Linked DNA regions of Homo sapiens. The protein of the gene in region 1 purifies or fractionates together with the protein of each later gene. This does not show direct contact. Each region holds a gene or a part of one and is shown on either strand. Other genes may lie near its edges.

Region 1 (12,357 bases):
TTATTCTTTCAATGTCAAGAAAAAAATAAGGCTCCTCCCAACATCTGCACATTACAGAACAGGTAGTAAATACGAGCCACTTCAATTTTAAACCCAGCCTAAAAGCCAGTAACATTCACAGAGTAATATTTCAAATAGTATTCCACTCGTTAATTTGCCAGTCAACATAAAAATTAATTTTACCATAAAATAATTATATTTTCAATATTAAAAAGTCTCATAGATAATCTATCATGAAATTGGGGGAAACAAGTCTCACAGAATACAAGTATTTAACATTTATTCTAACACATAACAGGGAACAGTCCCTGATCACCCTACATATTTGAGATGTAAATGTGTTTGCTTCAATAAAAGATTCACATCCAAGAAATAATTAAGCACCTACCATCTGCTAAAAACAAATCCTTTGGAGATAAAAGCTTTTACACATTATTAAAATATTTTTAAAATAGTAAACATAAAATAGCATCTGTTGAGAAAACTGCATACTAGTATTTCCTAACCAGTTTTGATAGCTCTTCAAAGTTCTGTTAGTTTTACACATTTTAAACACACTATGGTTGTACACATTTAAGTCCCAGTAGTAGTAGCTTCCAGAAATGCAGAGCTGTTAGGGTTTACATAAAACACACCTTTAAAAATTAAACCACAGGTTTCTTTAGAAGATTGATGAATGAAAACGAGTACATTATTCTTGGAAATTAAGAAGCCAATTTAAGAAATTATAATTTCCCTAAGACCACTAAGATATGTACTGAGGGGAAATTTTTCTCCTATTAATTAGCTTTTCTCCCTACTGCCTCAATAGACTCAAGAAGTCCTAGAGCTTACTGGGGGCATATATGGCAATGATTTCTCTCTGGAAGCTGTGAGGAAGTCAGACGAGCCAAAATTGTAGGGCAGTTATCAGTCTTACAGAGTTGACGGGAAATGGAGACCTGTCAAGGCTCTACACTTAAACTGGAATCAGAGAGATCCTTTCATTTACACTGACAACGAAAGGATGTATGATCAAAATGTAGGCTCTAAAAATAAAATTAACTCTCCAATTACATTATAGTTCTCTACAAATCCACTTAAACAGATAAACAACTAATCCTTCAAACTCAGCTATCCTAGAACAAAGACCATTTGACTAGTTTCCCCCAAGGAACCAAATTCTTTCAAAACTCTCTGGGAACAAAAATTATGCCTAACCTTCTAATAAATTTGCCTAGACAATCCTAACTTAAAACACACATAGTAAATTAACAAAAAACAAACAATTATAGCCTCGTGATTTATAAAGTAACCATTCAAAATAAGGTACAATACTTAAAAAAAAAAAAAGCCAGTATCATTTTACAGGAACTAAAACATCAAAAAAAAAAACAAAAAACAAAAAAAAACCACCCACCACCACCACCAAAAAGAAACAAAACCTAAAGCAATAAAGCAAGCCAATATGAAGAAAGCTAGTAAACTGAAGACAGCTTTTCCTATAATTTCTAACTTGGTATTTTTCATTTGAAGCCAAATAAGTTCAATTGCTTTGTCTGTCTAGACCTGACCAAGGTCTCTATGAAGAAAACCATCGGGCACAGGCAGTGTTCCCTCCTATGGCCACATAAATCAAATTTTTAAGAATACACTGATTTTGTATATTGAATAGTAAGTTTAAAGTACCAAGCTTCTGAACCACAGACCTTAATCACCCAGCCTTTAAAATAAATGCACAATCTTTACACAGCAGTGAATGATCTGGACTTAAATACTTGCTCAGATCAAAATACAAATGAGTACTGACCCCAAAACCCTACACAAATTTCGCCCACTACCCACCAACATTTCACTTTATAATAAAATATTTCAAATATTCTAAGTAAGGTTGTGTGCTCAGTCTTCCATGATGAAGCTCACTGGTATGTAGAAAATCCTTGAGCCAGTTATTTCTCTAATTATTTCGTAGGCTAGAACCTTATCAACCTAGTTGATACAGTCACCATATGAAGTAAATGCTGCTCTAAAATATTTACAATGGAATAAAAGAATCATGAAACAGTGTATACTCTTCAACCTTTTAAAGTACTACTGGATTGAAAAGCACTCATCTTTCCGTTGCTCCACAATCAGAATGGTCATTAAATGTCATTAATGGCCCACTCACATCTCACTGCTTAGTTCAACCCAAAAAGAACTCCCACTACGAAAGTGAATTCTAATCTTTCACACTTTAAAAAATTCAGTTAAATGACACCTGACACCATTTAATTTTCAGTCTCAGTCTGTAAGTTTCTGAAAATAGCATAAAATGGATTCAAGACCCTATTATGGTAATGTTTTTATTTAAGGTCTATTAAAACAGACTAAATTCCACAATCCTATAATAGGTAAATGGGCATATTTGAAGAGGAAAAAAATCCAGAATCGGAGCCTTACTTTTAACTTACATAATGATGATAGTATGCTGTAAGACGATTGTTAAAGGCAGCATGAAGCTTCACTTTACCAAATACACAATAAACTTTGAAAATTCTTAAGGAAAGCTTAAATACATGGGAAAAATGGATGGCAAAATATAATGGCATCTCTACACCCAATGAAGTAACAGGTTTAAGCTTGTTTGTACAGCTCCCTAAAATTTAAGCTAAAACACAATACAAAAACCAAAATCCACAAAATGGGTCAAGAGGTGGTTGGGAAATGTCTTACTCTAGATTGAAACATTTAATCATATAAAATAGATGATACTTATACAGTTACTAAACATTTTAATCTACTTTGGCATATTGAATAAAAGATGGTTGGATTAAACCAAACAAAAACTATTATTGGTACCCAAATAATTTTTTTTTAATGTTGAAGCGCACCCATCATCACCACTGAAATTTGCAAGGCTGTTTTTTTTTTTCAAAAGTGGAGACATTTTATTTGCCTTTCAGGAAAAACGAATCAAATTAATCAGCTAAAACACAGCACTGTAATTTGCAGTAAAAAATCAACACATTTTTGTAACTGGCTCGGGGAAGGAAAAACAGCCCAGTCTTTTCATGTAAACATAATAAGCCTGTAATATGCTGCAGACAAACGCACTGCATGGGGTGTGGAGGACCCGAGCTGATTAGATTACCACAACATCAGCCTGGGGCCGCCATTTTTAGAATCTGTAAAGGACAAAAGAGGGAAATTTCAGTTTTTACTCCCCATCTCAGAAATTGAAGGAAAAAAACAGACTATTTTCCAAATAGGTATTCATGTCTCCAGCCTCGAGTTGAATGCACCTCACTTAATTCTCTCCAAGGTCTCCAGAACTCCAAACACCTTACCTTATTCACATCTCTAAAAAGGGAACAAAATAGGCAAAACGAGGTTTACTCTAGAGCTAACTCTAGCGATTCCTCTTTGACTTTAAATTGTATCGTTCTTAAGACAGAGCCCAGCAAGGACGGATCTATACGGAACTAAGGCCAGTAGAAGAGAGCACTCTGGATTGTTTTTTTCTCACCCCCACCCCGTTTAGCACAGTGAACCGTTTGTTTCTCATCTGTGTCTGCTGCCATAGAATTTGTGCCAATCCCTTGGTCAAAATAAGCTTTTCTGAAATGAGCCATATTGTAGATCCTAAGGCTCCGGCACAGTAAAGGACGGCGGTAATGCAAAAGGAGTGGGGGAGGAGACTGAGAAGGCTGGGTACTGGGGTGACCACTTCAGGGGCGGGTTTACCCTCTCCAGGAGAGGATGAGGAGCTAGCTGTCTCGCTCTCCCACAAAGAGAGATGCCCAGGGCGTTCTTCTTACCCCCTTCGTATTCATGTGCACATTATACCAGAGACTGCCCGTCAAGAAATGGAAGAAGAAAATGGGGCCTATATGGCTTTTCAGCACCTGAACAAGACGCGGTTGAGAAAAGGGAGCGCTGGCAGCTCCTGGGACCACTTCGACACAAACCCTACTAACAGTCACAAGCCTCCGTCTTCACTCAAGCGGCCTTAACCCGCTGCCAATGAGGAGTGCGCCCCCTCCCTAACTCCCCCACTCTCAAGGGGGTTTAACTGCCAGTTACCCCTTTCCCAACCCTAAAACCCGCCATAATGCTCCATTTCTAGGGTCAGGGAGAAGAAAGAATAAATTCGATTTAAGCAAGCAACGTCTTGCGCCGGCAAAGACACCTGAGAGTCAACGTCGGCTCCCCCAGCTTAAGGATAAAGATGAGAGACCTCCCTCCCCCTTGAAACACAAGTACCCCAACCCCGCAAGCCCCAGGAACTCCCATGGAGACGACAGGCACTAACCTGTGATGTTCACACACGAGACACCCGAACCCCGTTATGTGCTCGACCCCCAAGGAGTCTCTCCGCACCTCCGCGAACAGGCGACCCCCCGACAGCAGCCACTGCGGACACAGGACCCGGCTCCACACACCCCCTCCCCAAACAGCAGCGCGCAGCCTCTTCACCAGGAACCGAGGAGTAGGGGAGGGGGCAGCCAGGCAGTCAACAGGAACGCAGAGACGACGGCGAGGCTGCTCGGAGTGTCTATGCCCACTCTGTTGCCGCTCCCGAACTCCGGCACGGTCTCCGACTCGGCCCCCTGCGCCCGCTCAGTGTCACTGCCTCTCGCTCTGGGAAAATGGCGGCGGCGGCGGCGGCGGCCGCGGCGGCGGCGGCGGCGGCGGCAAGTGCACGGGGTACGCCCGTCCCGCTCCGCAGGGGCAGAGGGGGAGGGGATGAAGCTGCCCGGCGCCATTTTGCTTGTGGGCTGCCGCCCGCCGTTGCCTCTCCGCGGAGGCTCGAAGATAGCAAACTGGAGGCGGTGAGGGGGACGGAATCTCTGTCTTTCTGACAACAGATGCATTCAACAATCCACCGAAGGTTTGAGGAAGTGTCGGTATTCGGTGGGACTGGTTCTTTCCCCCTTTCCCCCAGTGGCCCTCAAGTCTGGATATAGGTGAGCTTGGGCATGCCAGTATTGGGTGCACGAACAAGGACAGCAGGGCTTGGGAACGAACTCCCTCCCGTCACCCTCCGAAAGCGATACACCTTCTCCCCCTCCCAAACAACCCCAGTCCCGTCTCCCCGTTCCTCTCCCCCTCCTCCCCCAGCCCAGTCTGGCCTCCAGCGCTGGGTGAACCCGGTTGGGGTGTCACTCGACGCCCACTAGGGGCTGAGGAGGCTCCAGTGCGCAGGCTCCGGGCACCGGATAAAAGCGGAGCTGGCGAGTCTAGTGCTGTCTCGATGGAGGAGCAAGAAACGGAAGAGGTCGGGGGGAGAAGCAGCCGGAAAAATGCAGCCACCGTCAACGCCGCCTCCCTGCCACCGTGCTTCGGGGTAAAAAGCTGCCGTTGCCGTCGGTGCAGTTGCCGTCGCTGCCTCCTATACTTCTCTTGGCCTCGGGGAAGGATTTCCCCACCGGTGGGACAATGTGCGGGGAGGGGAGTGGGAATTCCTTTATATGGCGGTGATTAAACGAGGGAGGGACAGACAGTGATCTCGAAGAAAAAAGGGGGAGACCAAAGAATAAAAGAAGGGTTTCCCCACTAAAATGACACGGCGATTCCGGCTCTTGTTTTGGGGGTCTTTCCCCGAAATGGTTTCCGTCTTCCCCTTGCCCCGCAGCGACCCAGAGCGCTGGGGGAAGCGGAGTGGGGAGAGGCAGAGGCGGTCTCGGCAGCCAATCAGCGCCTGATGTGTCCTGTCGGGCGCGTCGTGGTTGGCTGGCGATGACCTCATCCTGCAGCAGCGGGTGGGGCCAAAGCCGTAGGGGGAGGCTGTTGCAAAGGTAGAGAGGGAGAAGTGACGATGGTGATCGTTGCTGCCGCGGCCGATATGGAACCCAAGCAGTGGCGAAGGGAATCGCAAGGCTCTTCCCTGACCATTTTCTACTGTCCCTGCGCGAGGTGAGGGCCCCGGCTCGGCCTCTGCAAAACTTTGGGGCGCTGGCGCGGAGGAGGAGACAGGATTTCTCCCGTGACTTTTGTAACTGCGTCAGGGCAAGATGGCGCTGGGTCTCTTTGGGGCGCGGGGGGAGAGGCACGTCCACCGCCGCAGCGCATGTGACCGGGCTGCATTCCTGTGGGGTTTGGCTCCGACCCAGGCCGGGGCGGGGGAGGGGACAGGGCTTGGGCGGAGGAGACTGTGGTGCGGTCGGCGTTGGCGGCCTGAAGAGGAAGAGATGACTGTTGGAAAGCGTTCCCCTCCCCCATACGGCAGAACAGCTGCGGCTCCCAGGGGAAAGCCCCCGCAGGACAGTCCTCGTGGGGTGTGACGGCTGTTGGTGGAGAAGGTTTGGCGCCCTATTTTCTTATCTGCCTTTCTCCCCGCAAAGTATACTTATGTAAGGTGGTAGTTCCCTGACGTGGGACTCGGAATCAACTAGGAGTCCTTGAGGGCCTCTGGGAGGCCTAGCGAGGGGTAGACCAGCTTCTGGGGGTACAACGTCAAGGAGGATCGATTACTTTCTGAGGAAACAGTTTCTCAGATTGAAATAGAAAAGTATTTCCAAAGTTTGGAAACAAATTTAAAGGTGTAAATAACACCCAGGAACACTTTAATTGCTTTGAAAAGGCATAAGCAGCCATCTGAATTTAAGGGCCCTTTTCAGACTCTTCCTTCCTCCTGTGATTCCTGTTCTTTATTTCAGTTTTCTGTCTGTACATCCCTTAAGAATATAGTTTTGTCGGTGGGATTCGCTCTTTTGTGCCCAGGCTGGAGTGCAGAGGCGAGATCTCGGCCCACTGCAACCTCCGCCTCCCCGGGTTCAGGCGAGTCTCCTGCCTCAGCCTCCCAGGTAGCTGGGATTACAGGCGCCCACAACCACACCCTGCTAATTTTTTCTATTTTTAGTAGAGACGGGGTTTCACCCCATTGACCAGGCTGGTCTCGAACTCTCGAGATCCGCCCGTCTCAGCTTCCCAAAGTGCTGGGATTATAGGCATGAGCCACCGCGCCGGGCCTGCTTTTTTTTTTTTTTTTTTTTTTTGCACTGGGCATTAGTAATACGGAATAAAAGCCGTGTTTTAAACTGTATTAAGTTGTAAGACTTTTCAGTACTTTCAAGTCTGCTTTCTTTCTGTTGCCCTTTTGTAGTTTTTAAAAATAAAAGATGCAATTATAAGCACTTCCGGTGAATATTATTCCTTAAGGTTCCTGCATCATCATGAAATTTGAAGCACTTTTATAGTAGTACAAACTATACTTTTAGCTTTTGAAATCTCGATAGGAGAAAATATCCAGCAGTTTTAGGGGCTATTTTGGCATATTCATTAAGGTAGACTAAGTTTGTTTTTCGTTTTTCCCACTTAGCCAAACTAGTTAAAGTAGTCAAAACTAGCAAATAATTTTTAAAGGGCTTCTCCTTTTGGGTGGTGTAGAGGGTGGGGAGTTATTCAACAAACACATTTGCAGCCAAAATCTGGCCTACTTCTTGGCAGAGCGCTTATACTTGGTGCTACGAGAAAATGATTGCTGGACCTGAAAAGAACCTGAGGTCAAGGTTGTGCTATTTCCTTAAGTCTTAGTTGTAGGCTCTTGGTAGTTTGAAAACAAGATTGGGTTTTTAATTCATTTGTGTATCCTTAAATCCTCACTAGTTTTTGTGGATTTCTTTTTTCAGTTATAAGCAACTGAATGTGGATGAGCTATAAATATTTAGTACAAAGAATGTAATTTGTCCACTCTGAATAGAAAGTAAGCATTAAGAACTCTTGAATGTCTTCAAGGGTTACTTTGTTACGTGTAAGATGTCTCCCCTTCCTTCATAGCAGTTTTTATTCCTGCTTAAAAAGGGAACTAAATATGAAGTCAGTAGATTTTAAGGTAATTTTCAGAATGTTTCTACTTTCACCGTGCCTTAATAAGGAAAAAAGGCCATTTTCCAAGCGAATGGAAACACCCTTTCCTTGTTTTGTGCCTTTAATCAGCGTGTACCTTCATTGTTCCTGATTGCCAAATCCACGAACTTCTTGAGCTCTCAATTTTTCTTGACTTTCCTATGGCATTTTAAATACTGTTCATACTTGGAATTACTTTTCTTTGACTGCCTTCATACATTCATATATTCTGCCTGGGCAATTTCATTTGGGCCTATTATGTTCCAATACCTCTCCAATTTTCACCTCCATCTTAGCTCTGCCAGCTTCAGTGCCACAGGTAGGCAATGTAAAAGTTTACTGGGGACCACAGGCTTTCTGAGCTCAATAAAAATACTAAGCTTGGTACTTGTTTTTTAAGAATTTTCTTCCCCCATCCCCTCACAAAGATTATTTGAGTAAATTACACCCCAACCTCCTTTTCCTTGTTTTTGTTGAAATTATTGTCTCTTAACTTTGGAACATTGCAGTTGCGGTAAGCTTACTAGGTTCACATAGCATATCTTCTGGTGTGTTAAAATTAAAATGCACACCATCTCAAAAGTGCTATGCCATTTCATACCTTTGTGCTTTTGTCCTGCTACCTGGAGTGCGTCTTTCTCACTTCTGGATAATACAATTTGAACCTTTTCTTTGCCTCTTGAAACTGCAAAATCCCTACTCGCAAGTAAATGTGTCATTCTTTATGTTGATAACCCAGCCTAGTGCTTGACACTTGATGGGCATTCAGGTATACATGGTTTTTTAGAGATTGATAAGATTAACTGTGCAGTCTATAAACTGTAAATACTGGCTTTTAAACTCTTTTAAAGGAGCTCTTTTGATAAACAATTTGGATAAGAGATGAAAGGTTAGGGAGGCTCCAGGCAAGGCAGAAGACTGCTGATGGCCCAGAGATAGTTCTGCCCCAAAAAGGTGGGAAGAAGAAAAAAACTGAGCTGGATATTTTTAAGGAAATATATTTTATAGCATTTTTCTTTAATGCCTAGTTTTGCTGCAAGCACTGAAGTTTATCCTGCATTTGTATTTCTTATTTGAAAAAGAAATGGCCTTTGGGGTTTGTTTTGTTTTTTGTTCCTTTGTAAGCACACTGCAAAAGCGGCGTTGTCAGCGTTGTCTTTTGAGGTATCAAACGTGCTTTCAGTCAGCAAATATCTTGTATATAGTACCATTCCTAATAAACTAAATTGGTTATCAACCTAATACAAACGGTACTTCATACAACTTAAGCCTAAACTAGATTAGATTATGTAGAAACTTATTCTTAGAGAATATATCGCCTTAATATTTCTTATCCTGAAAAGAGTATTTCTTAAGTGCCCCTCTCAAAGTATATCGATTAATATTTGTCTCAAATTTAAAACTATATCCTGGTTTTTCCCTTACAGTTGTTTAGCAAGTAAATGTTTACTTACTAATTTATTTTCTCCCAGACTTCATTCTACCAGTTTAAGCTTAGCTCAGTTTTGTTTTTTGGTTTTGAGAAGGAGCTTTGCTCTGTCACTCAGGCTGGAGTGCAGTGGTACGTTCTCAGCTCACTGCAGCCTCCGGCTCCTGGGTTCAAGCGATTCTCCTGCTTCAGTCCGTGAGTAGCTGGAACTACAGGCGCACACCACCACGCCCAGCTAATTTTTGTATTTTTAGTAGAGACAGGGTTTCACCATGTTGGCCGGGCTGGTCTTGAACTCCTGACCTCAGGTGATCTGCCTGCCTCAGCCTCCCAAAGTGCTGGGATTATAGGCGTGAGCCACCGTGCCCATCCTAAACTTAGCTCAGTTTTAATGCTACTTCCATTTCTTTATGTATAGTTTGATGTAAGAATAACAGTTGGAAGTAAGGATTTAGGAATAACAAGAGTTTGGGATTTTTGTTTTTTTAATTAGCAAGGTAATGCCACATCAGGTCATTAGTGACATTAATGAGAGAACAGGGGAATTATTGGAAAGTCTTGACTTAAGGCCAGACGAGAAATCCTTAACTGCTAGTGTGACTTCCCTCCCCACAAAAGAGAATGCTCTCGTAATACACCGAACTGTTGGATGCTGTTGTATATACTTTATATATAATCTTACCCAAGGTGGCAGAGCATTAACTTTAACATCTGTCTCCCTGACCTCACCAGAGTTCATAATCTTTGCCCTACTTACACTGTCTGAAGGATGACTTGGCCTTTTTTTTTTTTTTTTTTTTTTTAATTGAGACAGAGTCTTGCACAGTTGCCCAGGCTGGAGTGCAGTGGCACGATCTCGGCTCACGGCAGCCTCCACCTCCTGGGTTCAAGTGATTCTCCTGCATCACCCTCCCCAGTAGCTGGGATTACAGACGCTTGTCACCGCGCCTGGCTAATTTTTGTATTTCGGGGTTTCGCCATGTTGGCCAGGCTGGTCTCGAACTCCCCACCTCAGGTGATCCGCCCATCTTGGCCTCCCAAAGTGCTGAGATTACAGGCATGAGGTGTGGCACAGGACAGAGAAAGACTTACTTTAAAACATACCTGTCTTCAACCCAGAAGAGACTGGCTTTTAGAGCCCTCAATGTAGCAAGAAGAGCCTGAATCAGAGCAGGAGTGATAAAGAAGGAATCTAAGTTATTACAGAAACATCCGTAATTGTTGCCTGGGTGGGTATAAGGAAGAAGAAGGAATTGACTTTCAAGAAAAATAATTGACATTTGATAGTCTTCACAGATAAAAGCCAAAACAGGGTAGATTCAGTCTTAATAGGAGACAAATTTAGCAAGAAAGCTGAGATCTTGGGTCGGTCTACATTTTAGGCCAAGGAAAAGGAACTGATTGCATTTGTTTTTTAAGATAGATTATACGCCAGTGCATAACATATTTAACCTAAGTCTGATTAGCTTTATAATAATTTTTAAATTATTCATAACTATCCTAAGCAATACCTTTTATTGTTAGATTATTATGTAATGCCCACAAATGATAGATAGCATTTGAAAGTAATTGCTGGCTGATTATAGGCATGGTGGCTTATGCCTATAATCCCAGCACTTTGGGAGGCCAGGGTTGGTGGATCACATGAGGCCAGGAGTTCAAGACCAGCCTGGCCAACGTGGCAAAACTCTGTCTCTACTAAAAATACAAAATAATTAGCTGGGCGTAGTGGTGCACATCTGTAATCCAGCTACTCAGGAGGCTGAGGCATGAGAATTGCTTGAATTGGGGAGGTGGAGGTTGCAGTGAGCTGAGATCGCACCACTGCATTCCAACCTGGGGGACAGAGTGAGACCCTGTCTCAAAAAAAAAAAAAAAAAAGGAATTGCAAGTAGCCTGTAATCCCAGCACTTTTAGGAGTCCGAGGCAGGAGGATCACTTGAGACCAAGCTGGGCAACATGATGAAACCCCTGTCTCTACAAATAATTTTTTTAAAATATTAGCCAGGTGTCTGGCACACGCCTGTAGTCCCATTTACTTAGGAGGCTTAGGTGGGAGGATCACCACTTGAGGCCAAGAGATCAAGATCAGCCTGGGCAACATAGCAAGACCCCCACCTATAGGAAAATAAATCCGAGCGTTCCAAGTGTTCAGCTATTCACCCACTTTAGGTTTCCACCTTCCTTAGAAAGTAGAGTAGTATAAATTATTTCTGAAATTTGTGAAACGATGTACCACATAACCCTCTCAAACCAGGTTGCTACTACTTCCAATGACTTCATTGATAAGGGGCAAAGTAACTCGAATGATGGGTGAGCTCATGACATGGTTTAGCTCCGTATCAAACTCTGGATTTGGGAAAATTGCTACTGATTTATTAAACACTTGAATTCTTATATGCTAGGTCAGAATTTGGCAACTAAACTCTCAGAAATTTGTAAACTTCCTTTTTACATAGAAAAGTGAATCCAGGCTGGGTATGGTGGCACGTGCCTGTAATCCCAGCTGCTCAGGAGGCTGAGGCATGATAATTGCTTGAACCTGGGAGGTGGAGGTTGCAGTGAGCCCAAGATTACACTGCTGTACTCCAGCCTGGGCAACAGAGGGAGGCTCTGTCTCAAAAAAAAAAAAAAAAAAAAAAAAAGTGAATATACTGTACTGTAAAGCCTGTGCACCTCTTCATCACACATAATTGCCTGTACATTATGCCCAGTGCCTGGCCCCTATTGGATTTCTGACAAGCTTTAATGTTGTTAGGTTAAGAGAGAACCTGTTCCTCAAGTTTAGTCTTATCTCTAGTATTTAAATTTTTCATGAAGGAAGGCTGTGCTAAGGCGATACTTCATTCCTGAAGAACACTTACTTAAATAAGTAATGTTCAATTAATTTTCCTCATTCTATGAAAAACTTGAAAAGGCAACAAAAATATTCACTATTCTCTGGTTCATTTGATAACAATATTGTGGTAGTCTAGGCATCTCTCCCATGTCCCAAGCACAGCTTATCTGACCACATCTATACAACAGACATTCTGTAGCGACTCTCTTTGTTCTATTCCATGCTCCTACTTTATGGCCAGTGAAAGGGCAAATGGAAGTCAAAAGGGTAAGAGGACACG
Region 2 (11,900 bases), on another chromosome or scaffold:
ATATAGCTCATTCATTCATTTTTTTGTTTCATTGTAGCAGTTTCACATTAGGTCTGTAATGGCTAATGAATATTACAGTGCAGTTTCTTTGTTGACTCAGATAAAGGTAACTGGGCCATTCCTTCCTATGTACCTTATGCCCAGTGCCATTTATGAACAGACATTACCAGTGTATTCGATGGAGTCAGGTTGAAGTGGTTATCAGTAATGTGCTTCTAGTCATGAAGAACTGCAGTGAAGAGAGCTCAGCGTCTGGTATGTCCGCCTTCAGTCTGCCTTTTAGTTTTTATCAGTAGATGACCAGCTACAGAAGTGCAAGTAGGTATATAGTTTTGTTTTATAATCAAATGAAATACAGAATAACCTTGATTTTACACACATGGTTGTATCCATGACTAATTGACAATAAACAGCAAGCAGTTGTCATAAATGCTGATAATTACAATTCTTTTTTTTTCCCAAATAAGTTTTTCTCCTCTTTTTGTAAGCTGAATTACCATTTTTTGCTGACACAGGAAATTCGTATTACACATTCCTGCTAGCACACTTATCAAAGGGACAATGGTCCTTTAATAGTTGCCAAACAGAGAATTTGTTCAATGTTTTTTAGGACTAGCCAGCATAGCGAGAGTATAAGGAAACATGGAAATTGCTTTTGGCATTATTAATAATCTTTTTGGAAAGCAATTTGGCAATGATGAAAACCTTCTTTAAAATGCTTATATCCCCTTCAGCTTTTGAGGGAATCCATCCTAAGGAGAAAAAAACAACACACATTGTACATGGCAAAAGCCTATACATATAGATATTTGAGGTAATATTCTTTTAAAATAGTGATCATTGGAAAAGTTCGAAGGTCCAGCTATGGCGTGAATAATTTACTGGCTGAATATTATGATGCTATTAAAATTATTTCAGAAAGTATTATTTATATAAAATGTTCATAGTTACATGTATTTTTAAGGGCAAAATTAGGGCACGAAATTTTATAGCTAGTGTATCAGTACTAGATCTAGCTCTTCAATAACAAAGATCCCCTGTGTCATTTTTTCCCCATCCTATTTACCTTTTCTAAAATCTGGATCTGTAGGGCAGAGTTGGAGTCAAGAAAGCATTTGATGATGAGAACATGAGTATAATTTGCTGAGCTTTTCTGACTTGAAGCTTATATAGGACCTTGGATCAATCAGATTTTCGTTTCAGACTAGGGCAGTATGTTGTGGTCATATTTAAGCTTTGCCTTTTTTACCAGTTTGTCTCATCTAGTCATCCTGTACCATAATCATGGTGTTCAGAGTCCATTTTCTTATTCTTGTATTGCCTATTTGCAAGGTAGAGTTGGCAGGCTCTGTATGACTAACTCCCCTTTGAGAACACAGTCCCTAACATCCTTACAGAAAGCACTTCCTGAAACAAGCGATCTATAGAAAATGGCTGTTTTGTGATCTTCATGCGTGCCACCCCACTCCCTGCCAGCTGTCGTTGCTCGTCTCTGTCACTGAATGACTATATACTTCATGTGTTTCAGTCTTATTTCTTTCTGGAGTCTCTCTTCTCCCTGAGTCTCAATACCCTAGTCAGTGTTTAGAGTACTTGATTACAGAGGTACTATCAGATTTGCTCTTACACTTGGAAAGAAGGGATGCTATTTTAGATGGTCATGCCGGATTTTAACATCTAACAGATTTAGGTGGTCTCTTTTGCCTCCTATTATATAAATCAAAAGCTGTCCCTGGAAAAAGCCTTTTTCTGCATATATATATTTACAGATAAATGGAAATAGCTTCTGGCACAAAACTAGTTCAAGTTTTAGATTTTTCCAAGGAAGACTTAAGTCATATGCTTTTTCTGGAGTCACAGATTTTTTTGATGTGCCAAAATACATTATAGTATAATTGCATTCTAATTTAAAAAATGTTTATTGAGTACTTGTTGACTCAGGTAATGTGCTAGTTTCCCAGAATTAAAGGATTACTAGACTTAAACCCTTTTGTCAGGATCCCAGTCTAGTAGTCACACACAGGCAAACAACCATAGCCACACAGTTGATAACCAGTGTGGTAAGTGCCACACATACAGAAATTCTAGGATCAGCGTAGGAGAGACTGGTTAGCCCTGGTGTAGTGAAAGAGGATTTCACCTCCATTCAGATAGGAGAAAGAGCAAAGGAGGACATAAGGCTCAGAGGCATGATGTATAACACAGCATATTCAAGATGTTAGATGTAATTTGCCACCACTTGAATTTATTGTGTAATGGGAGTGAGACGGGGTGTGTAGTATTGAGATGAGACTGGAGAGACAGAAGAGCCAGATTACAGAAACAACTGTGTGCCATAATTAGGCGTTTGACCTTTGTTATGAAGGCCAAGGGGATCATTGAAAATTCTCAAGCAAGAAGTGATATGTTCAGTTTTTTGTTTTACAAGTAATAGTCTAGCTGTAGCTTGGCATATATACTGAATTGAGGAGGAGGGGAAAGAAATGTGTATAGCAAAGGGTAATGGGGACTAAACGCAGATCTGGCAGAAAAGGTAAGGTGATGAGCATCTACAGATGGTAGAGTGGTAGGATTTGGAGTAGGATGGTAGGATTTGGTAAATTGTCAAATGCCAAGGGACCGAGAGAGAAGAGGGAGTTAGGATGACTATGACTTTCAGGTGTAGTGAAATGAGATCAGAAGTTTCTAAGGAAAAGTAGTTTTAGGGAGGGGAAGAAGAAAATTGATTTTGAACATAGTAATTTTAAACTGCTATGTAATGCCATGGCTAGAAATAAAGAAAATATTCTAGTTGAATTCAACATTTAAGCAGAGCATTTAAGTTTGGAACTTCTCTAGGGTAAACATTAGTGAGAAGTGCCAAAACAATGCTAATGACTACTTCAGGGATGTTTCATTGCTATTTGAGAGCATCCTAAGTACATCTGCAGTACCTTGAGATGCATGTAAGCACCTGTGATAGTTTTTCTCCTGGTCTGACAGAACAAATTCAGGATATCTGCAACATTCCAGCCAGAAATTGGCACAGTTCCACCTGCAAGTCTTAGACTATTCTTGGACATATTATTACTTTAAACTTAAACTCTATAAGCTAATTAAATAGGGTCCAAATTTAACAATTTTGACTATTTAAATTGCAGTCATGAATAAAGTATACAGAAATCATGTACTTCAAACAAATTTATAAGCATTACATAAGTCAAGACACTTTCAAAACCTTGGCAGTAAATATGGCAATAAGATGGCTCAGTGTTTCATGCACTGTGCAACCACTTTCCAGGACCCTGAGATGAAAACAAAACAGTGATGTAGTCTTTTACTTTCTATCAGGAAACAGGAGCTCACTCTCTCCCTTAGCTTTATCCTTGACCATATTTTAACTGTTCAAGAGGAGTAGTAGAGTCTCTGAATGAATTTGAATCTGTACTTTCTCATTTATTAGTTGTGATTTTCCATTAGATTATAAAATAATAAAATTATATGTGTGTACACAGTATCTAGCATATGGTATAGGCCCTCTGTAAATGATGTCTTCTGTCTTGAAGTTTTCTTAAATCTCTTAAGCTGCTTGGCGTTTGGCTGTTTTTACTATGGATGATTTACTGTGAATTTATTCAGGGAGGGGTTATATAATTGAAAACAGGAATCTCCAACCTCACTGCTTAAGGATTTTACTGCTATGTCTCTCATTGTTTCTCCCCATCCTCCCTCATCCTTATTCTGTTTTCTGCCTTGGTGATCTGGAATCTACTCATATTCAGATAGTTGTGGGCTTCCTGATAGGGACAATTCAAAACGGTGCTTCTCCGCCCCCACCCCCCCACCCCCGCCCCGCCCCCCGATTGGTATCTCTGTGAGCCCAGATTAAGGTGAAAACTATGAAAACTATAAATGCATTTAATTATGATCTTGCTTATGGGCAAAATCAGGGGCTAAAATCAAGGTTTTAGAGGTAACATTTTTCCACTTGCCTTTTCCACTGTGGGTTAGATGTTGTGAGCATAATGAGTTAGGTGTTCCAAAGAGAGAAGGAAGGGGTTACAAGGAAAATCAACTTAGGTGTACTCTGACTATCAAATAACCAAATTTTCCTAGCCACATGCTAGGAAATTGTGAGCCCACAGTATTTTCTACTAGACTGTTTATAAGTACCACAAGGAGTATAAGAGTGGAAGCACAAAATCCAAAAAAGACATTACTAAACACTAAAAAACTAGGCTAGACAGGCTAGCCAACAGACATACTATATAGATTAAATCAGTTTAACCAAGACCCAAAATAAGCCTGTATTTATTTCCTTTGTTTAGTATAAATGTTTATTAATATTCTATATTACTTGTACAATTTAATTGAATTGTTTAAAATACTTCATAGAAATTACTACTTAATGATAAATGGTGATTAATATTTCAGTAAAGAAAATAACCACCCTTGGTTTATCAGCTTCTTAGAATTTTACCTTTGAATTTTGACTAGATATTAATAAAAAGCAAGGCCAACATAAAGAGATTTTTATTAAGTAAGTGCTTTGGTTTTAAGTATTTCAAGTTAAGAGTAAGTAATTGCTGATGGAGACCTATAAACCAGGTAATCATTTGCTAGCTGTTCATTTCTTAAATATTTCATATAGATGAGTTATTACTAAGTGGCAAAGAATTGGTATTTTTAAAGCACTTAATTCATACATAAAATGAGATTTAACCGTTATGATTTTTTAATATTTGAATTTATTTTTATTATTTTAGTTTTCCTAAGTAGTTCCAAAGAGCTCCAAAATACTGAATTTATCAGATGTTTGACAATTTATATGTAGAAATTTAAATACTTCAGATTTTACCTGAGTGCTAGATTGCTTTACAGACATTATTGAATTATAACTACGTAGTAGATAACAATTACATGAAGTAAATGAAGATCATTCAGAATGAATGAATTCCTATTTAAAGCATATTATGTGTACCACTTTTGAGAGATGCTGAATACTTGAACTGGGCTGGGATGAAAGAAAATTTGAAATAAAGTTCCTTAATTCTAGATGTAAAAAATATTAAAATATAATACAGAAATATTAAATGTCCCTTAATCTGTCTTGGCCTGATTTAAATGAAGCAATTTAATTATATGATTTCCAAAGACTTGTTTTACCTTTTACATTTGATGCTTTTTGTTAAGAAAAGTTGTGTACCATGACATTTTAGAAAATTTGAAGCTATATAATCAAGTATTTACTAGAAATTTTAAAGAGTACATTAAGAGAAAAAGAAAGTATGTAAAGGCTGACATGTTTACATGCACACACACGCGCGCGCACACACACACACACACACACACACACACGACCTTCGTCTGGGATTTTAAATGGGTAGGATGGGATTTGAAAAGATGATGGTGATCTTTCTTTCTGTGTCATTTAGCATGTTGCCACTAGGAAAATAAATTCTCATGCCTTTTCTTTTGTTTTTAGGATTTTCTCATTCAGCATTTACCTTTGGTATAGAAAGCCATATCAGTCAGTCCAATATAAATGGTGCCCTCGTCCCACCCGCTGCATTGATTTCTATCATCCAGAAAGGTCTACAGTATGTAGAAGCAGAAGTTAGTATTAATGAGGTAAGGAAGACTTATTTCAAATACTGATTTTTTTCATCTTAAATATGCCGTTAAGTCAGCTGTCTTGCTTGCTTATTCAGTATTCTGACTTTAGCTTCACAGGGTTAACAAAAGTGCAGGCAGTTCATCCCTAATGTGGTAGTCAGGTTGCACCGGCAAGGTGTTGGCGCCTAGTTGTAAGGACCATTATCTGTAGTTTGTTTGCCTTAATCTGTTTGTGTAAGTAAACACTAATAAAGAATTTTTATTAACACAACAGCATTGTGCTGTGGAATGCTAAGATCATAATTATTGGCCTGAAAATTGTAAATTCTCACGTTATTTGAATATACCCAAATTTAAACCAGTTTGTAATTGAAGCCAACTCTGGATGGTACTGCCTATCTAAGGACTACATGTGAGTAGTTTGTTTGGCTTAGGGGTCAGCATACTGTGGCCCATTAGCCAAATGCTCCTCCCTGTTTTTCTCAATAAAGTTTGATTGGAACATAGCCACATGCATTTACATATTGTCCATGGCTACTTATGGCATAATAGTAGTTGAGACAGAGACCTTATGGCCTGCAGAGCCTAAATTAATATTTACTGTCTACTCTTTTACAGAAAAAGGTTGTAAACCCCGGTCTAGTTTAAAATGTTGTTTTTGTTTTTTGTTTTGTTTTGTTTTGTGTGTGACGGAATCTCGCTCTGTTGCCCAGGCTGGAGTGTGGTGGCACAATCTCAGCTCACTGCAACCTCCGCCTCCTGGGTTCAAGCGATTGTCCTGCCTCTGCCTCCTTAGCAGCTGGGATTATAGGCACCCACCACCATGCCCAGCTAATTTTTGAATTTTTGTAGAGACAGGGTTTCCCCATGTTGGCCAGGCTGGTCTTGACTCCTGACCTCAGGTAATCTGCCCACCTCGGCCTCCCAAAGTGCTGGAATTACAGGCATGAGCCACCACGCCCAGCCTAGTTTAAAATTTTTATCTATAGTGAGGAGCTTTTCCCATTACTTCTATTTCAGAGATTAACATGTTCCCCTTTTGCGAGTATTTTTAAACTGAAGTATCTATGATTTCTGTATCAATGATTATTACTAGAATTAGAAATTACATAATATACTAAAATGGATTTGTTTGTTTCCTCAGCTCTTTGAGTGACCATCCAGTAACGCAAAACTAAATTTTTTCTTAAAATGTGTGTAAATTTGACATGGCGCTTATTCCACAGTGTATCTGTGTTGGGTTTAGTATCTTAAAAATTATTTATAAGTTAAAATACTTTCTCCTGTTCCTGAAATATTACATTACAATGGACAGTTTAGAAAGACAGGCTGTGTTTTTGCAGCTCACAGTACCCTGCAATAACACTGTAGATTGTCACTGGTACATGTTTACCAGTTTAAGTGAACCAGACTTCACATATGCATGTTCCCAGCTAATTTGTACTGTTTGTATTTCTGACTTGTTCTGTGTTTGTGTCTCTTCTTGTGCTTACTTGGAGAACTCTTTATTAGGAACTTCCTAATATCAATAAGTAGAGCTTTGGAAATTTTAATAACTCCCTAATATTCAAGAGCACTATAGCCCCATGAAGTCTGTTTCTGCTTTAATATTTGAATCAAATCACAAGAAACTCTTCAGCTCAAAGTTTTTAGTTTTTTAAAAGATGTATTTACTATAATGGGGCACCAGGCCTCTGATCATTATATGAACTATATTCCATATTGTTTGTTGCTTTGACTAACAGAATTTCAGAATCTAATTAATAAGCCTTTTTATCAGCTCGGCCTACATCTTATTATCTCTTTCATTTCAGCTCTATCTGTACAGCTCTATACTGTAATAATAGTATGAATTAAATGAAAAGGAAAATGTAAGCAGTCATTTCCAGTTGCTGCTTGTAGTTTCTTTATTCCCTCCGGACTTCTTATATGAATTCAGAAAGTTCCTAAAAATGTTTTTTTAGGAACGAAGATTTTCATTTCATTTCTGATTTTGTATAAATACAAATAACTTTAAATATTGCCTTTGATTTTTCTTCTCTCACAATTTTCCAAATCCAGGATGGTACCTTGTTTGATGGTCGACCAATAGAGTCTCTGTCCCTGATAGATGCCGTAATGCCTGATGTAGTACAAACAAGACAACAAGCTTATAGAGATAAGCTTGCACAGCAACAGGCAGCAGCTGCTGCAGCTGCCGCAGCTGCAGCCAGCCAACAAGGATCTGCAAAAAATGGAGAAAACACAGCAAATGGGGAGGAGAATGGAGCACATACTATAGCAAGTGAGCTCAGACAAGAATTTTTTTTTAATTACATGGTTTATTTATTTATTTTTTTAAACTTTTAATTCGGGGTACATGTGCAGGTTTGTTATATAGATGAACTCATATCACAGGGGTTTGTTGTACAGACTATTTCATCACCCAGGTACTAAGCCTAGTGCCCAATAGTTATTTTTTCTGATCCTCCTCTTCCTCCCACCCTCCACCCCCCAGGAAGGTCCCAGGAGACAAGAATTTTTAAAAATTTTTTCTCAGAAGAAATGCCCCATCTTCTATGCTGAAATAATTTCATCTGTTAACTTGCACCAACTTGTTTCCCTAACTTGTATCACACAGTTCAATTCAGATTTTTATTCCTAAAGCTCCAAAAAGCTAGATTTACTTTTATTTTCTTTTTAAAATATCTAGAAACCCTTTTCCCATTGTTAAATGAATTTTTACATCTACATTTGATTTCTAAATAAAATTTGTAATACTAGTTATCAACAAATAACCATAGAGCTCTGACATCGAGATAAAAGGCAACTCATGTTATATGAATGATATCAGCAACCCCTACTGGCAGAAACTCAGAATAGTACTGATAGACATTATATTTAATTCAAACCATTTTATCGTTTTATCCATGTTTAGGTCTAATCATTTAAAGTCTCCCATCCCACTCCCACCCCCACCCCTCTAAAAAAAAAGTATGTGGTCAATACTTAATTAAAGATAAGAATTTATTTTCTGTGTGACTAAGACTGTGTAGTCATGTTCAGCTTAACTGGATATAATTGAAAAATGTTACACTGTGTGCGATAAAGGAAGGTATTTGCTAGTTAAGAAATCACCCATCCACCATGTTGTAATACTGCCTAACTGGAAATGCTTACTTGTGTTTCACGATGCAGATAATCATACTGATATGATGGAAGTGGATGGGGATGTTGAAATCCCTCCTAATAAAGCTGTTGTGTTGCGGGGCCATGAATCTGAAGTTTTTATCTGTGCCTGGAACCCTGTTAGTGATCTCCTAGCATCAGGGTATGTTTCTCAAAGTGATACTAAAATGACTTAAAAATATCTTATTGAACATTTTATAAACATATGCATTATTCAGGTTTTCTGTTGTTGCTTAGTTGTGGCCATTTTGTCTCTGTAAATTTTTTATTCCTTCATGAAGTAATTGTAGAATTTTTAATTAAACTTACTATTTCGAGAATGCTTGGGGGTCCCAACGTGTAGAATGGGAAAAATACTGGAAATGAAAATTCGTGATAGTCGTTTTTATTTGCCTTATTAATATTCAGATGTAAATATGTTGCCTTGTTCTGATACGTGAGAATGTCATGAGGATCTAAAATATATTGCATACTTTTATAGGTCTGGAGACTCAACAGCAAGAATATGGAATCTTAGTGAGAACAGCACCAGTGGCTCTACACAGTTAGTACTTAGACATTGTATACGAGAAGGAGGGCAAGATGTTCCAAGCAACAAGGATGTCACATCTCTAGATTGGAATGTGAGTATCACTATATCCATGATGGATATAATTACTAGTATACCTAACCCTCAGAGCCTCATACTCACGGCAGGGTTTGTCTATTTGTTCAGAATTTGGGGTTTTATTAACTAGTAACAACAAACCGGGAGTCGTCCCCTGCCAGCCCTCTCCCCCACTGTGGGACACAGACTTGCCTTAGTCAGACCAAGGTTCAACATCCAGCTCTTCAGTGTATCCCACAGCATATCCTTGGTTAAATTGTTACTTTTTACTCTGTACTTCATTTTCTTTAAATGTCAAGTAGAAGTGTGAAAATGGTACCTAAATATTTGAGATAATAGGTGAAAATTCTTACCATAATAACAAACAACATACTAAATCTATAACAACCGAGTCCTTAGGGGATAAAAGAATTCTGTGTAGCAAAAAACATGTTCTTGTTTTTCTCTGTATTCTGTGAACTGGTAGAACTTTATTACCAATTTCCTTTTAGGGATCATTAGTCTAGACAACGTCTGAATTTTATTCCCACTGTAGGAATCTTGTAATTCTCTGATTCTGTGTATGATTCAACATCTTTCAGGACAACTTGACTACTGTGACTTACAAAAAACTTTGACTTCGTTGTTGATAAATTCTCACCATTATAGTTTTAAATACATCTCTTACCTCGCTCCGCTACCCCCTGCCCCTCCCCCAAAACTCTTAGATTATTTCAGCATTGCAAAGAATATCAAGATAGTTGTTCTTTGCTCAGCAAATGAATGTTCTTTTCTCTTCTGTTTAACAACCCTTTGTGGACTTTCTAAAGGATCTTCCAATTCTTTTCCCCGGGAATGAGATCTATCTTTAAAATGATTATCCCCACTAAAGTTCTCAGTTTCTGTGAAATGTTTTTTCAGAAATCATAGCTAGGTATTTTTAGCATTTTCTTCCAAAATTGCCAGCAGCATATTTACTCTTCCCCTCCATATGACAATTCTAAAAATTCCAAAGGGGTTTAGCACATTGTAGTATTATTTACTTGTAAGATCAAGACAGAATTATTTTCTTAATATGGGCCCTTATTATATTTTAGTTCAGATATCTTACAGCTTTCTTACGCTACCTGGTCCACTGGCCATGTTAATGAAATTTATAGTTTACACTGAAAAGGATGGTTAATGAATATTGGTTTGTTGAGCTTGGTAGTTCTGAACTGCATTTTATAGTTTTGAAAAGTGTGGGCTTTTAAAAAATGTGTTATTCACGGTGAACTTGGAAAACATTATCCTCGATTAATGATTCTTTTCCATGGCTAAAGCAAGAGAGCCTGTGAGATTTCTCATCTTTACAGTATTTTCCTAGTTGAGCAGTTCATGAACTAAAACATTTAGGGACTGATAGTTTAGAGGAAACTTGACATTGTGTAGGATGTGGAAATAAGCTTTTACTGTTGACTTCAACATGGCTCCCCTTCTTCTTGAGACAGAGCCCTAAGGGATGGCCACATCCCAGCAGAATTGAGTCTGCAGTTCCCAGAACCAGCATTTGTTTTTGTTTGTCACTTAGCCATACTGCTAAATGGCTTGAGAGATGTGAAATAGGTGATCTTGTTTTGAATGCCCTTACCAAAAACCATCAATAATATGTCAAGTAATGCAGGATTTCATTCTCCAGTAATGTTTACTGATTCTAGCAATAGTCTGTTTACTATAATCTGTAACTTCTGTGTTTGCATAGAGTAGGTTAGATCTGTCCTTTTATTACACAATTCATCGAGGCAAGGTGCACAGCAAGGGAATATAAGTTGAGAGAAATTTATATGGACTTTTCCTCCTGGTAAAGTAGGCAGTTGTACTTACTTCATTAACTATAAAGTCAGCCTGTGCTCTTTTCTGGCTCTTTTCCTTGTTGATCTTTTTATTGGCAAATATTTCATAGTGGGAAGGGATTAATAATAGAAAGGAACATTCAAGTATTTAAGAATCTGATCATTCGAAACAATGATATTGTTTGGATCATACCCACACACTTCGTTTTAGACAGTAAAGGATTTAGAGGAATGGCCATATAAAACCTTCTAATCATATTTTAAAGTTTTTCTTTTTTACTTCTAATAAATCATTGTAAGACTATGAATTTGATGTTCTTCCCAGTCCACCACTCTACCTTCATTCTTAGTTGTGTGAGTCTGTGAGAATACTTTTGGCATGCATGAGGTGGGGTGATGTAGATCCTGGTCCAGAGCAATCACTGTCAGTTGTTGAACTTTGGATATAAGGCCCCCATACAACATTAGTGTCACACAGTGGAAGGGTTTCATAGGCCTTTAGTGGCACTCACAAGTAGGCAAAACTGACAAGTTTTGAAGCAGAGAATGTCTTCATTCTCTTCTGTACCTGGGATTTAAACATGAAATACTTTAACAACAATTAAATACCGTATCTAGATTATATAATTAAAGAAATGTTTTTCTCTGGCAGAGTGAAGGTACACTTCTAGCAACTGGTTCCTATGATGGGTTTGCCAGAATATGGACTAAAGATGGTA

The links.
Region 2: the proteins of KMT2E (region 1) and TBL1XR1 purify together in Homo sapiens (affinity purification with mass spectrometry; 2 studies listed by BioGRID). This does not show direct contact.

The regions. Positions count from the first base shown.
Region 1 is NC_000007.14:105,006,452-105,018,808, reverse strand, and holds the start of KMT2E (inactive histone-lysine N-methyltransferase 2E), read right to left. Parts: upstream 4,605-12,357; 5' UTR 4,274-4,604; intron 1-4,273. UniProt on the Homo sapiens protein: Associates with chromatin regions downstream of transcriptional start sites of active genes and thus regulates gene transcription. Chromatin interaction is mediated via the binding to tri-methylated histone H3 at 'Lys-4' (H3K4me3).
Region 2 is NC_000003.12:177,047,483-177,059,382, reverse strand, and holds part of TBL1XR1 (F-box-like/WD repeat-containing protein TBL1XR1), read left to right. Parts: intron 1-5,464; coding exon 5,465-5,610; intron 5,611-7,656; coding exon 7,657-7,879; intron 7,880-8,772; coding exon 8,773-8,905; intron 8,906-9,244; coding exon 9,245-9,386; intron 9,387-11,459; exon of another isoform or gene 11,460-11,749; intron 11,750-11,833; coding exon 11,834-11,897; intron 11,898-11,900. UniProt on the Homo sapiens protein: F-box-like protein involved in the recruitment of the ubiquitin/19S proteasome complex to nuclear receptor-regulated transcription units. Plays an essential role in transcription activation mediated by nuclear receptors.